3 separate regions of the Homo sapiens genome follow, and regions 1 and 3 are each linked to region 2. Evidence: fine-mapped expression QTL. A gene starts in region 2. Each other region holds a variant in brackets. All regions are shown on one strand. Distances are from middle to middle. Region 1 overlaps LOC101928004 (a long non-coding RNA gene). Region 2 holds the start of LY86 (lymphocyte antigen 86). Region 3 overlaps LY86 (lymphocyte antigen 86).

Region 1 (4,277 bases), 160 kb before region 2:
ACAGATAATGAGGCTAGAGCAACAGTTCCTGGGCCGTCTATCTCCTCCCGTGAAAGGAGTTTTCACTCTGCATGGGGCTTGCAGTATTTTAAGCCATCACCTCATCAGCACTTGTGGCGATGCTTCTGCCATGCCGCTGTTCAAATCTTAGAGCCTGCCCTGCAAGCAGAAGCATCCATTTCACCTACTGGTGCATTCAGTCATTTCATCCTTCACTTAGTATCCAACAAACACTTACTGATTGCTTGCTCTCCGGACAGCCCTGTGGACACCACCAATGGGGTGGGAGATGCATGTGTTATGTGTGACTGCATACGTGTGGTATGTGCGTATCTTCATGTGTCTCTGTGTATGTGTGTGCTATGTGAGTAAGCATGTGTATGTGTGTGTCTGTGTATATATAAATATATGTGTGCCTCTGTATCTCTGTGTGTTTGTATCTGTGTTGCGTGTGTTTGTGTGTGTCAGTGTCTGTGTGTGCGTGTGTCTGTGTCTCTGGGTATGTCTGTGTGTGCTTATGTGTGTGTCTGTGTCTGTGCATGTCTGTGTGTATGTCTGTATGTGTGCATCTGTCTATATGTGTGTATGTCTCTGTGTCTGTGTGTATATGTCTATGTCTCTGCGTGTCTGTGTGTGTCTGTGCATGCATGTGCATGTGTCTGTGTGTTCCTGTGTGTATCTGTGTGCCTGTGTGTGTGAGCTCACAGCTCTGGAACTTACATGCAGAAATAGGCATACACAATCGTGCCCACACACACCAGTTGCATGCTTATTCCTACTCTGTGGCTCTCAGGCTGCATGAGTAAGTCCCCAAGCCATTTCCCTCCCCGGTCAGAGCAGCCACCTGCTTTCAGGACAGCAGCTGCCATTTATGTTTCCATTTCTGGCACCCAGTGACCTCGCTGAGAGCGGCTGAGGAGAAACAGACACCGACACCCCGTCCTTATCTGCAGCAGCTCCCACAGAACCACAAAAAGGGGTATCTTCAAGGGTGGTGGCACAAAGCAAGGACGGCGATGACGGGGGTCAGGAAGCTGCTCAGGACATTGCATCGCCCCAAACTTTCTCCCCACAAATGCAGTTGCCTCTGCCCTGATTACGATTCCTGCCAGATACTCCGAGCAGAATGCACTTTTGCCATGGCCAGGCATTTTCCATGTTACTCTGTGCCAGCGGTGGCTCTGCATCTGAGACCTGCCATTCTGCACACTCAGGATTAGGTCTTAGTTTGGGAGCTGGGGCTCTCGGTCACTCCCAGCCCCCAGCAGGCAGATGTGCAGACCCCCTCGCAGGGGACATGCAGTGATCAGAAAGATCTAGGGAATATGGTGTGGTAGAGCAGCCCCGGGGACTCTCTAGATCCGACCCCAGAGGGTAAGTGGGACGTGGCAGCTTTCATTCAGCTGCAGGGGAGGTGAAGCCTTCCTCTAAGCCCCTGAAATTGACAGGTGACAGCGTCCTGGCCGCCCTTACACACTCTCCGCGCCTCCCCGGCCTTGGCGCCCACTCTGGCAGAGCTTGAGGAGCCCTTCAGCCCGCCGCTGCACTGTGGGAGCCCCTTTCTGGGCTGGCCGAGGCCGGAGCCGGCTCCCTCAGCTTGCGGGGAGGTGTGGAGGGAGAGGCGCGAGCGGGAACCGGGGCTGCGCGCGGCGCTTGCGGGCCAGCGCAAGTTCCGGGTGGGCGTGGGCTCCGCGGCCCCGCACTCCGAGCGGCGGACCGGCCCGCAAGCCCCGGGCACTGAGCGGCTTAGTGCCTGGGCCAGCAGCTGCTGTGCTCGATTTCTCGCCGGGCCTTAGCTGCTTCCCCACAGGGCAGGGCTCGGGACCTGCAGCCCACCATGCCTGAGCCTCCCCCCACACCGCCGTGGGCTCCTGCATAGCCCAAGCCTCCCCGACAAGCGCCGCTCCCTGCTCCACGGCGCCCAGTCCCATCGACCACCCAAGGGCTGAGGAGTGCGGGCACAGGGCGCGGCACTGGCAGGCAGCTCCACTTGCGGCCCCGGTGTGGGATCCACTGAGTGAAGCCTGCTGGGCTCCTGAATCTGCTGGGGACTTGGAAAATGTTTAGTCTAGCTACGGGATTGTAAATACACCAATCAGCACTCTGTATCTAGCTCAAGGTTTGTAAACACACCAATCAGCACCCTGTGTCTAGCTCAGGGTTTGTGAATGCACCAATTGGCACTCTGTATCTAGCTCAAGGTTTGTAAATACACCAATCCACACTCTGTATCTAGCTAATCTAGTGGGGACGTGGAGAACTTTCGTGTCTAGCTCAGGGCTTGTAAACGCACCAATCAGCACCCTGTCAAAACGGACCAATCGGCTCTCTGTAAAATGGACCAATCAGCAGGACGTGGGTGGGGCCAGATAAGGGAATAAAAGCAGGCTGCCGCGCTAGCAATTATAACCTGGTCGGTTTTCTTTTGTGGTGTGTGTTTATATTGTGCGAGTTCTGTTCTTTTGTTCTGCGGTAAATCTTGTTGTTGTTTGCTGTTTAGGTCTATGTTCCCTTTATGAGCTGTAACGCACACCATGAAGGTCTGCGGCTTGGCTATTGAGTCAGTGAGAGCGTGAACCTACTATTAGAAGAAAAACTCTGAATACGTCTGAACGTCAGAAAGAAC[G/A]AAGTTTGGACACATTGTCTTTAAGAACTGTAACACTCACCCCAAGGGTTTATGGATTCATTCTTGAAATCAGTGAAACCAAAAGCTTTCCAAAGTTTAACACACAGGGTAAGTCTGGGGTGGTCCAGCCTAGATAAGGGTTTGGTTTGCTGGGGTGATTTAATGTAGGATTATTGTCGGGCATAAGGGCAGTTTCTGACAGCTGGGGAGGATTGTAAAGAAAACCCATAATCCTTCAGCCCTGTTCTGCGTGGCCCGTGCTGTGGGTAGGATACCCTAGAGAACAAACTAGGGTAGAAGGCCTGGGGCCGGCAGACTGATCATGTGATGCTTAGCCTAACTACTATTCTCTCTAATCCTGCTAGTAGTAGATCTGCCAGTGTTCCATCTTAGCTGATGTTACTGGTGCTAGGGGAGTGACCTTTTGTGGCTTTCCAGCCATTAGCCCCTGTAGGATAGACTGGTTTGTACTGGTGCAGTCTGTTTAAAAACATGCATTCCTCATGGCTCATCAGTTTTGTGTGTTAAGTCTCGCCATGCAGGTGGTCTTAATCTTGTTTTCAACTTGTAGCTCTGCCATACCTGTCTCTCTAAGGAGACCTAACTATTGCCTACTTCCCACCTGCGGCCATTCATCCACCAGGCCCAAGCTTATGGGTGTTGAACAATACAGCTACTTATTTTTGACATTGTGTCTTTATGTGTGTGTCACTCCAGTGGAAGTCAACCCAACCGTGGGTAGGAGACAATACATGTATGAGGAAAGGGATCACAGGTACAGAAGTTCACAGAACTAATGCACTTTTTCACATTTTGGTGCTCATAATGCATTTTCCCCCTATAGATATGATTTGAGAAAGAAGACACTGAAAGAATGGAGGAATAGACACCAAGTTAATAAGGGTTCCTAACTGATGAATTTCACTCTTAGGATGGCTGAGCCAGAGACCACCATTTCATTCTTTTTGCTGTGCCCTGCCTGTTTCGATGGTTTTCCAGGATTCCCAACGTGATAAGTGTGTCCCAGTGTGACGTTATTTAATCTATTCTGGCAATTCAGTGTCAGTATCCGTTTTCCCTTCAAATATTTCACCAAAGTATTTATGCCCCACTACTGTATTTCATTGATTGTAAGATACACGCTGGTTTTTATTAGCATTTCTGAAGTTGAAATGCGTGGAACATTGGTGGTGTGTCATAATACTTTAGGATTTGTTACTTAGTGGTACACCAAATAATGGTAGGTTGATGGTGTTTTAGATTGCCTCGAGAGTTCCTCAATCAGTAATAGTAGTTCTAATAACTCCTTTCCCAACTATGGGGAGAACACAGGCTCCTTTCTGTACCTGAAAGAATCTTGCAGGTGCTGCCCTCAACGTCTACTCCAAACCTACTTGACTCTATCTCGGTGACTGGCTTCAGTACTTTAACCTCCTACTTGGTGTTGGCTTCCCAGCCTGGGTCTCGACAGGGCTGGCCATTGGTCTGAATCCTTGCTTTGCCTCTGGTCTCCATCCTCTGCCACTTCTTGGCTCCGTACTCTGCAGTCGGCAGGCATTTGCACGTGCGTGAACACCTGCGGGGACTCGGCTGCCTGCTTGCCAGGGCCATGAGACCTGAAGGAGGACACAGCCTCTCCTTTTTGCTTTTG
Region 2 (4,271 bases):
CCACTGGGAGTCTTGGAACGTATTCCTAGCAGACTGGGGGGGGACTACGGTATCTTAGAATGTGACTGTATGTGGAGATAGGGTCTTTTTTTTTTTTTTTTTTTTTTTTAAGACAGAGTTTCGCTCCTCTTGCCCAGGCTGGAGTACAATGGCACGATCTTGGCTCACTGCAACCTCCACCTCCTGGGTTCAAGCAATTCTGCCTCAGCCTCCCAAGTAGCTGGGATTACAGGCGCGTGCCACCATGCCCAGCTAATTTTATATTTTTAGTAGAAACAGGGTTTTTCCATGTTGGTCAGGCTGGTCTTGAATGCTTGACCTCAAGTGGTTCACCCTCCTCAGCCTCCCAAAGTGCTGGGATTACAGGTGTGAGCCATCATGCCCTGCTGGAGATAGGGTCTTTAAAGAGCTGATTAAGCTAAAGTGAGGCCATGGAGGTGGGCCCTAATCTGATATGATTGTGTACTTATAAGAAGAGGAGATGAGGACACAGATGTACACAGAGGGAAGAGCACATGAGGAGACAGGGAGAAGATGCCACCTAGAAGCAAAGAAGAGAGGTCTCAGGAGAAACCAGCCCAGCTTCCAGAGCTGTGAGGAAATAAATCTGTTATTTAAGTCCCCAGCCTGTGGTGGTTTGTTATGGCAGCCCTAGCTGACTAAGACACAGCCCGATTGGTTGGTTCTGACACTTCTTACCACAGTTCACTGCATTCTCTTCACTGAATTGCAATTATCTGTTGGCGTATTGGGTTGGCCCGCTGGGGTGACAGGCCTGGCATATGCACTTTTATTATCTCTAGCACTGAGAAACCCTGGCATTGATAGCTGCATGCGAAGTGCTTGCTGAATTCATGAGAGCTACTGCTGCAGTGAAAGCTCTGAAAGTGTCCAGAGAGGGACAGGAATCTTCTCTTTGGGCAGAAGTGATCTTTTCACTTCACTTGCAAAGTACATCAGATGGAAAGGTAGCCCAGGTGTACGGTGTTGAGGAAGGGCCTACTGGAAGCTGCTTTTCCTAATTTTCAGCTGGTGAGGTTTGATGATTTGGTAGACTCACTGATCATTTTGTTCTTTTTTGGGTTCTGTGGTGTTAGTAAATGGCTATATTTAGATTCAATTTCTCTTTCTTGTACTCTTTGTTGTTCTGCCATTCTCTTCCGCTCCCAGTCCTGGCCCCACCGCTCCTTCTTCCAAAAGCTCCCAGTGGCCCTCCCAGACCTGCTGCAGGTGGAGAAAGTGTTCAGCTGCTGGTCCCCTCTCCCCTCCCACCCCAACTCCAACTGAGCACTAGCGGCTCACATCTGTGGGCCTTGCTTTCCCCATAAACACACATGGGTGTACTGCAAGGGCTTACCGCAACTCTGGTAGAGCACTTCCAAGCCGCTGTCGCTACAGACCACGTGTGTGGGCCAGGCTTTCCCACCGCCGCCTCCACTGCAGCTGGGAAAAATCAGAGTCCAGAGGAAGAGAGTGGCTGTGAAACCCTTCATGGTGGGGGCCTGTATGGGACACACAGAAAAATAACCGGCCAATAAAAAGCCTGTAAAATTTCTTCCTCTCCCCTCACCAAGGCAGTTGGATGTTCAGTTTCACTTCTCAAATTTTAGACTCGCTGGGAACCACAGTCAGAAGTAAAAGGCTGAGAGCAGAGGCATTTGAATACTGTTCCCCCAGGACCTTGAATCTACAGGTGTGGCTGGTCTGGTCTGGGGTAGGATGCGTGCTGACTTTCTGCTTTCACAGGGAGAGGGTCAGTAGTGATGCGTGAACTTACCTCTTGGGGGCCCCTCAGAACAGCCTCCACCCCCAGGTGAGGCTGTAAACTTGGGAAAGACAAAGCGCAGGCCACCATCTGTTTCCCATCTCCAGCCCCCGAGTCTCTGCAGGCTCTTGATGCAGGCTGTGTATGGACCCAGGGACCTGGCTGCAGCCAGCAGGCAGCAGTTGATAGCACGAGGGCTACAGAATGACATTTGGAATCTGGAATGAGGCTTTGGCCCTATTGTCACTTTCCTCTCCTCTGGCTTTGGCTCTGCTCTTAGGTTTGGGATTTTAGCAGTGAATTGTCCAGCTGCAGAACAGACCTTGTTTTGGGAGCTGCAGATGTGGTCTCTGGAGATGAGGCAGAGGCAATAGCCCTGAGAAGTGAGCCGTGTTCTATTTCTGGGTTTGGCTTGGTAGAAAAAGTAGGAAGGGTGGGGAGGTGGGGCCACCCTTAAGGAGGCTGGTTTGCTGGTTTTGGTGTTAGTGGGATCATTGACATCACATCTCACTTTCTCTTCAAAGCCAAGATTCTGTCTTCCTTCTTCCATGTATCTCTATTCTGCTGCAGGACAGCAAGGTTTCTCAGTCTTGATTCCTCAACCCCGCCCCAGCTTCACCTTAATGTAAGAGGACCAGAGTCAGTGCCAAGGTCAGCAGATTTCAGGAGCAATAGAAAACACTATTTTCCCTGGGAGGAACAGCATTTTTCTGAATGCACTAGGTAAATTTACTATTTCTGCTGATGGCTAAGCAAAAATTAGAGTTAGCTCAAAACTTTTTTTGAAATAGGTGGAACATAATTACCAATAAATTAATTGGTAAATAATTTGGATTTCTTGATAGACATCAGAGAGTGGTCATTTGGAGAAGGAACAGTTGTGGATTGATTATTTTTAGGTACCTCTGCAAATAAGTTCAGTGATGATGGCTTTCAACAGCAGTTCTCAAAGTGCGGCCTGGGAAGATGACAGCCTCAGCTTCCACTGGGGGCTTGTTAGAGATGCAAATTCTGGGCTACTCAAGACCTATTAAATCAGAAACTCTGGGGGGCGGGACTCACCATTCTGGATTTTCACAAGCCCTCCAGGTGTGCCTGATGCAGTCTCAAGTTTGAGAACTGCTGGCTTTTACAGAACATAAAGCGAAGGTTGAGCCCCAAGGGAGTGGTGGGAAGTTGCTCTAAGAAGAGACAAGGTGGCCCCTCTGGCCTGTGTGAGCGGAAGGCAGCTGCGCTGTGAGCAAGATCTCGGGAGATGAGAGTCTGAAGCTTATGGTGAGAGCAGCGGCCCTGGTGGAAGCGTGGTAGCCCCTAGAAGGTCCAGGATGGAACACAGAAGCTTTCCCTTGGGATATGTGAGTGCTCCAGCAGTTGTAAAGAGAGCTCTGAACATATGTGAGTGAGGAGAGCAATTGAGGGTGAGAACTTCCTTCCCTGCAAAGTGCGTCATGATTGACACTGGAGGAGGAGTCCAGGAGTGCAGGGCAGGGAGCAGAAAACCTAGCAGAGAGCTGTGGGCAGCTGTGGCAGGGAAATGGTCTTAGTATGTTCTGGCTGCCATAACAAATACCTTAGACTGGGTGGCTTAAATGACAAGCATTTATTTCTCACCATTTTGGAGGGTGGAGGTCCAAAGTTGGAGATTAAGGTGCTAGAAGATTCAGTGTCTGGTGAGGGGCCTCTGGTTCACAAATGGTGCCTTCTGGCTGTGCCCTCACATGGTGGAAGGGGCGAAGGGTTTCTCTTAGGCCTCTTTTATAAAGGCACTAATCCCATGTATGAGAGCTCCATTCTTATGACCTAATCACCTCCCAAAGGCCTTTCCTCCTAATACCATCACCTTGAGGCTTAGGATTTCAACATATGAGTTTGGGCAGGGCCACAAACATTGGCTTTATTGCAGAAACAGTGTCATCTGAAGACAGGGGTACAGATTCTTGAGAATCAAAAGACCTGGAAATGAAAGGAATCATAATTCAGGGATCGCACTAGCATTTAGAAATATTCCAAATGGACCAATCAGGAACCTTGTGATCATGGTGACCCTAGGACATTGGTCTTCAGGCTAGAGTGGTCTTCAGGGCATCAGCGTCAGCTGGGGGGCTTGTTAACATGCAGATTGCTGGACCCCACCCCAGAGTTTCTGCTCCTGTGTGTCTGGTGAGGCCTGAGAACCTGTGTTTCTAACATGTTCCCAGGTGATGCCAGTGTTGTTGATCTGGGGCCACATTCTGAGGACCTCTGGTTTAGCTTACAGAATTTGATCATTTGCAGAATGTACAATTAAAAAAAATCTTCTTAATAAAATGTTTTGTTTTATGACAGATGGCATTTTATATAACACATATATAACATACCCATATAGGATTAAGAGTAAGCCACATTCTCTAAGGAATTCTACTTACTAGTTCTGCCTACTGAAAATGGGATTTGATTGAAATCATTAGTTATGGCCGTCTAGTTCAGAAATCAACCCATAATGATGTCTGGAGTTCTTTAACTAGAA
Region 3 (4,000 bases), 24 kb before region 2:
CTGAATTCCCCACTCTAGCAACACCTTGCTTCGCTCTTTACACTGCACTGTGGGAGCTGGTTAAGTGTTCGAGGAGTGACTGAAGGAAGGCGGATAAACCATCAGGCAGGGAAAGTAAGGGGCCCTATTGAGAGGTGACAGCATGCTGGCAGCCCTCGCTCGCTCTTGGGGCCTCCTCGGCCTTGGCGCCCACTCTGGCCGCGCTTGAGGAGCCCTTCAGCCCGCCGCTGCACTGTGGGAACCCCTTTCTGGGCTGGCCAAGGCCGGAGCCGGCTCCCTCAGCTTGCGGGGAGATATGAAGGGGGAAGCGCAGGCGGGAACCCGGGCGGCGCGCGGCGCTTGCGGGCCAGAGCGAGTTCCCGGTGGGCGTGGGATCGGCGGGCCCCGCACTCGGAGCGGCCGGCCTGACAGCAAGCCCCGGGCAGTGAGGAGCTTAGCACCTGGGCCAGCAGCTGCTGTGCTCGATTTCTCACCGGGCCTTGGCTGCCTCCCGGCGCGGCAGGGCTCAGGACCTGCAGCCCACCATGCCTGAAGTCTCCTCCCGCTCCCCACTCCCCCGCTGTGAGCTTATGAGCAGGCCAAGCCTCCCCGACGAGCAGCGCCACCCTGCTCCATAGCGCTCCGTCCCCTAGACTGCACAAGGGCTGAGGAGTGCGGGCGCACGGCGCGGGATTGGCAGGCAGCTCCACCTGCGGCCCTAGTGCCGGATCCACTGGGTGAAGCCAGCTGGGCTCCTGAGTCTGGTGGGAACTTGGAGAATCTTTATGTCTAGCTAAGGGATTGTAAACACACCAATCAGCCCCCTGTGTCTAGCTCAGGGTTTGTGAATGCACCAATCCACACTCTGTATCTGGCTACTCTGGTGGGGACTTGGAGAAGCTTTATGTCTAGCCAAGGGATTGTAAATACACCAATCAGCACTCTGTATCTAGCTCAAGGATTGTTAACACACCAATCAGCACCCTGTGTCTAGCTCAGAGTTTGTGAATGCACCAATTGGCACTCTGTATCTAGTTAAGCTGGTGAGGACTTGGAGAACCTTTATGTCTAGCTAAGGGAATGTAAATACACCAATCAGCACTCTGTATCTAGCTCAAGGTTTGTAAACACACCAATCAGCACTCTGTGTCTAGCTCAGGGTTTGTAAATACACCAATCAACACTCTGTATCTAGCTAATCTAGTGGGGAACTGGAGAACTTTTGCATCTAGCTCAGGGATTGTAAACGCGACCAATCAGCACCCTGTCAAAACGGACCAATCAGCTCTCTGTAAGACAGACCAATTGGCTCTCTGTAAAATGGACCAATCAGCAGGATGTGGGAGGGGCCAGATAAGAGAATAAAGTCAGGCTGCAGGCTCCACTAGTGACAACTGGTTGTTTCGTTGCTTTTGTGTGGTTGGTTTGTTCTTTTGCTTTTTGCAGTAAGTGTTTTTGTTGTTTACACTTTGGGTCTGCATTGCTTTTATGAAGTGTAACACTCCCCATGAAGGTTTGCGGTTTCTTTTATGAGGCCAGTGAGACTAGGTACCCACTGGGGGAAAATAAATGATTAACACTCCAAATGTATCACCTTAAGAAGTGTAATGCTTACTGCGAGGGTCTGCAGTTTCACGCCTGAAGTTAGCAAGGCCACTAACCCACGAGAAAGAAACTCAGAACACATCTGAACATCAGAAGGAATAAACTCTGGACACGCCCTCTTGAAGAACTTAACTGTGAGGGTCTGTGGCTTCGTTCTTGAAGTCAGTGAGACCAAGAACCCCCAAATTGTGGACACATCTATCAATCTTAGGAGTTGTTGAGCTGATTTTTGGAAATAATCAGCTTGCTTTTGGATCTTCTCAAATCTTGCTAATACATTGGCTTTTTAACATCTTCAATTTGCTCTCTCCTAATACAAGAGACCACAAAGATTATTTTCATAGTGTTCAGTACTCAGTTAAGGGGGTAGATA[T/C]CCTTTCAAGTAGATTGCTTGGGACACGTGCTGGAAGTTAAGAGCAGCTGGCAGAACACAGCAGCAGTCTGATTTTTTTCTTATTTTTGGTAGGTGCAGAAAAAATGGAAGGAGAGATGCTAGATTGACAGGAGAGACAAAAGCCCTGCTATTTTATCGGTCCGATTGTTAAAGCTTTTTGAGCCCGTACTGTTTGATAGGCACTGTGCTAGATGTGGGATACAAAGGTGATTTAGTCTTAAGCATAGCCCCTGACTTTCAGGAGAAAGGGGGGACAAACACGACCGGCGCGCAGCGTAGCCACAAGGTGCGGTGAGAGAACAGGGAGGCACCAGTGTGGGTGACAGGAACTGCCACACGGTGGACAGGTAGCAGCGCTTTGCCTTGGAAGCTGTGGAGGCGGTTTTGTGTCCATTCATCTTAAGTATATTCCTATATATTTCCAAATACTTGCAGTAATTACAGATGAGTGTAATAACAGTGATCACTTCTATAGCTCTTTCCACAGCAGGTCCTGTTCTGAGCCCTACGTATGTATTAGCTGAAATCCTCACAAAAGCCTTAAGAGAGATGCTATCATCCGTGTTTTAGAATTGGGAAAACTGAGGCAGAGAGGGTTTATGGAAAGTGTGCAGGTTGAAAACCTTGTACTGGGCTGGAGTAGGAGCCTATGTTATGTAGGCTCTTTTCTACCAACTCAGGCACAGAGAATAATATATACAAAAAAACTCAAGTCCCAAAGACTGTGTATTCTGGGAACTTCACGTTTGTCAACAAAAGCTCTTCATAAAATCAAGTCAGTTGTGCTTTTGTGACCTTCATTTTGAATCATATAAATGCAAACAGTCCAGCTTGTTTCTTTGAAAGGCTGGAGGTCGGAGGTGGCTGGTGTTTGCTCAGACACGGCCAGATCTTAACGGTCCTAGAATCACCCCTGGAAGGACAGTGGAAAAACAAGATAATTTTCTTTTCCTCTATTGCTTAAAGTGGTATCAGAAAGGTAGACTTCTGTCTTCTTCCTATATATTTTCAAAGAAGGAGCCTTCCTTGGCAAAATACAAATTTCTGTGGCTGCTGGGGTCAGAAAGAGTTTCCACCGTCATCACAGGCCTTCATCTTGCAGGTAAGCTCAGACATGCTCACCTTCTTACTGACTTTGCTGAACATCGCTCATGTTGTGGAATAGAATTTCTACACCATTTGTGCTCATAGTGTGACATCAAAACCAGTATGTCCTTTGCAGCCCTTAAATACACACATGAGAATGCACACACACACCCCACAAAACAAAACCCCAGCCCTCCCTCGCTTTGGCCTTCTAGCTTGACCATTTTAGGGCAGACTGTCTTGGTATGTTCCTAGGGACAGAAGCTTCCATGTAACTCAGGCAGTAAATCAGGGCATCAGCTAGCACTCACCTTGCCCCCCCCTAAGCTTCCGTTTCTTCACTTGTAAAAGGAGGAACTGAGCACTATTTTAAGCTTCATGCTTCCTTCCTGTACCAGGCTTCTCAGATGCCCCAGAGGCCAGGGCAGTGGAGCCCAGACTCTGGGGGCTCAGGGCCTGCACTGTGGGTCATAAAGGCAGAGGGAGATGCGTAGCCTCAGGCTCAAGAGCTTCAGGCCATTTTTTTAAAATAAAATCTTTTTATCTTGAAATAATGATAGACATAGGAAGCTACACAAAGAGTACAGAGGTGCCCTGTGTACTTTCACCCACTTCCCTTCATGGTAACATCTTACAGAACCACGTATCAAAACCTAGTCATTGACACTGGTGTACTCTACAGACTGTACTCAGGTTTTAGCGGTTTTCACACGCACGCACGTGTTCGCTCTTGTAGTTCTATGCAGGGTTACTGCGTATAAGCACCACCATACAGATCCTGGCTGGGCGTGGTGGCTCATGTGTGTAATTCCAACACTTTGGGAGGCCTGGGCAGGAGGATCGCTGGAGCCCAGGAGTTCACGACCAGCCTGAGCAACATAGACCCTGTTTCTACAAAAATAGAGGCCAGCACCCTTCCTTGCCAGTGCAAACGTT

Evidence for each region. PIP is the estimated chance that this variant, and not a neighbour inherited with it, causes the effect. A credible set is the group of variants that fine-mapping cannot tell apart.
Region 1: its variant is the best candidate, but not a certain one, in a credible set for the expression of LY86 in whole blood (TOPMed, PIP 0.85).
Region 3: its variant is the best candidate, but not a certain one, in a credible set for the expression of LY86 in whole blood (INTERVAL, PIP 0.61).

Annotation. Positions count from the first base shown.
Region 1 is chr6:6,743,394-6,747,670 of GRCh38, reverse strand. The region is part of intron 2 of LOC101928004 (a long non-coding RNA gene); the gene reads left to right. Among named protein-coding and RNA genes, the nearest start is that of LY86-AS1, 120 kb to the right of the region's middle. The variant G/A (reference allele first, on the strand shown) is at 2,627.
Region 2 is chr6:6,585,957-6,590,227 of GRCh38, reverse strand. LY86 (lymphocyte antigen 86) reads right to left here and starts at 1,508. Exons shown (of 5, transcript NM_004271.4): 1 at 1,358-1,508. The coding sequence starts at 1,493. The region is part of intron 1 of LY86-AS1 (LY86 antisense RNA 1); the gene reads left to right. RefSeq lists enhancers at 2,982-3,111, 3,122-3,211.
Region 3 is chr6:6,609,931-6,613,930 of GRCh38, reverse strand. All of the region lies in intron 1 of LY86 (lymphocyte antigen 86), which reads right to left. The region is part of intron 1 of LY86-AS1 (LY86 antisense RNA 1); the gene reads left to right. Among named protein-coding and RNA genes, the nearest start is that of LY86-AS1, 11 kb to the left of the region's middle. The variant T/C (reference allele first, on the strand shown) is at 1,958.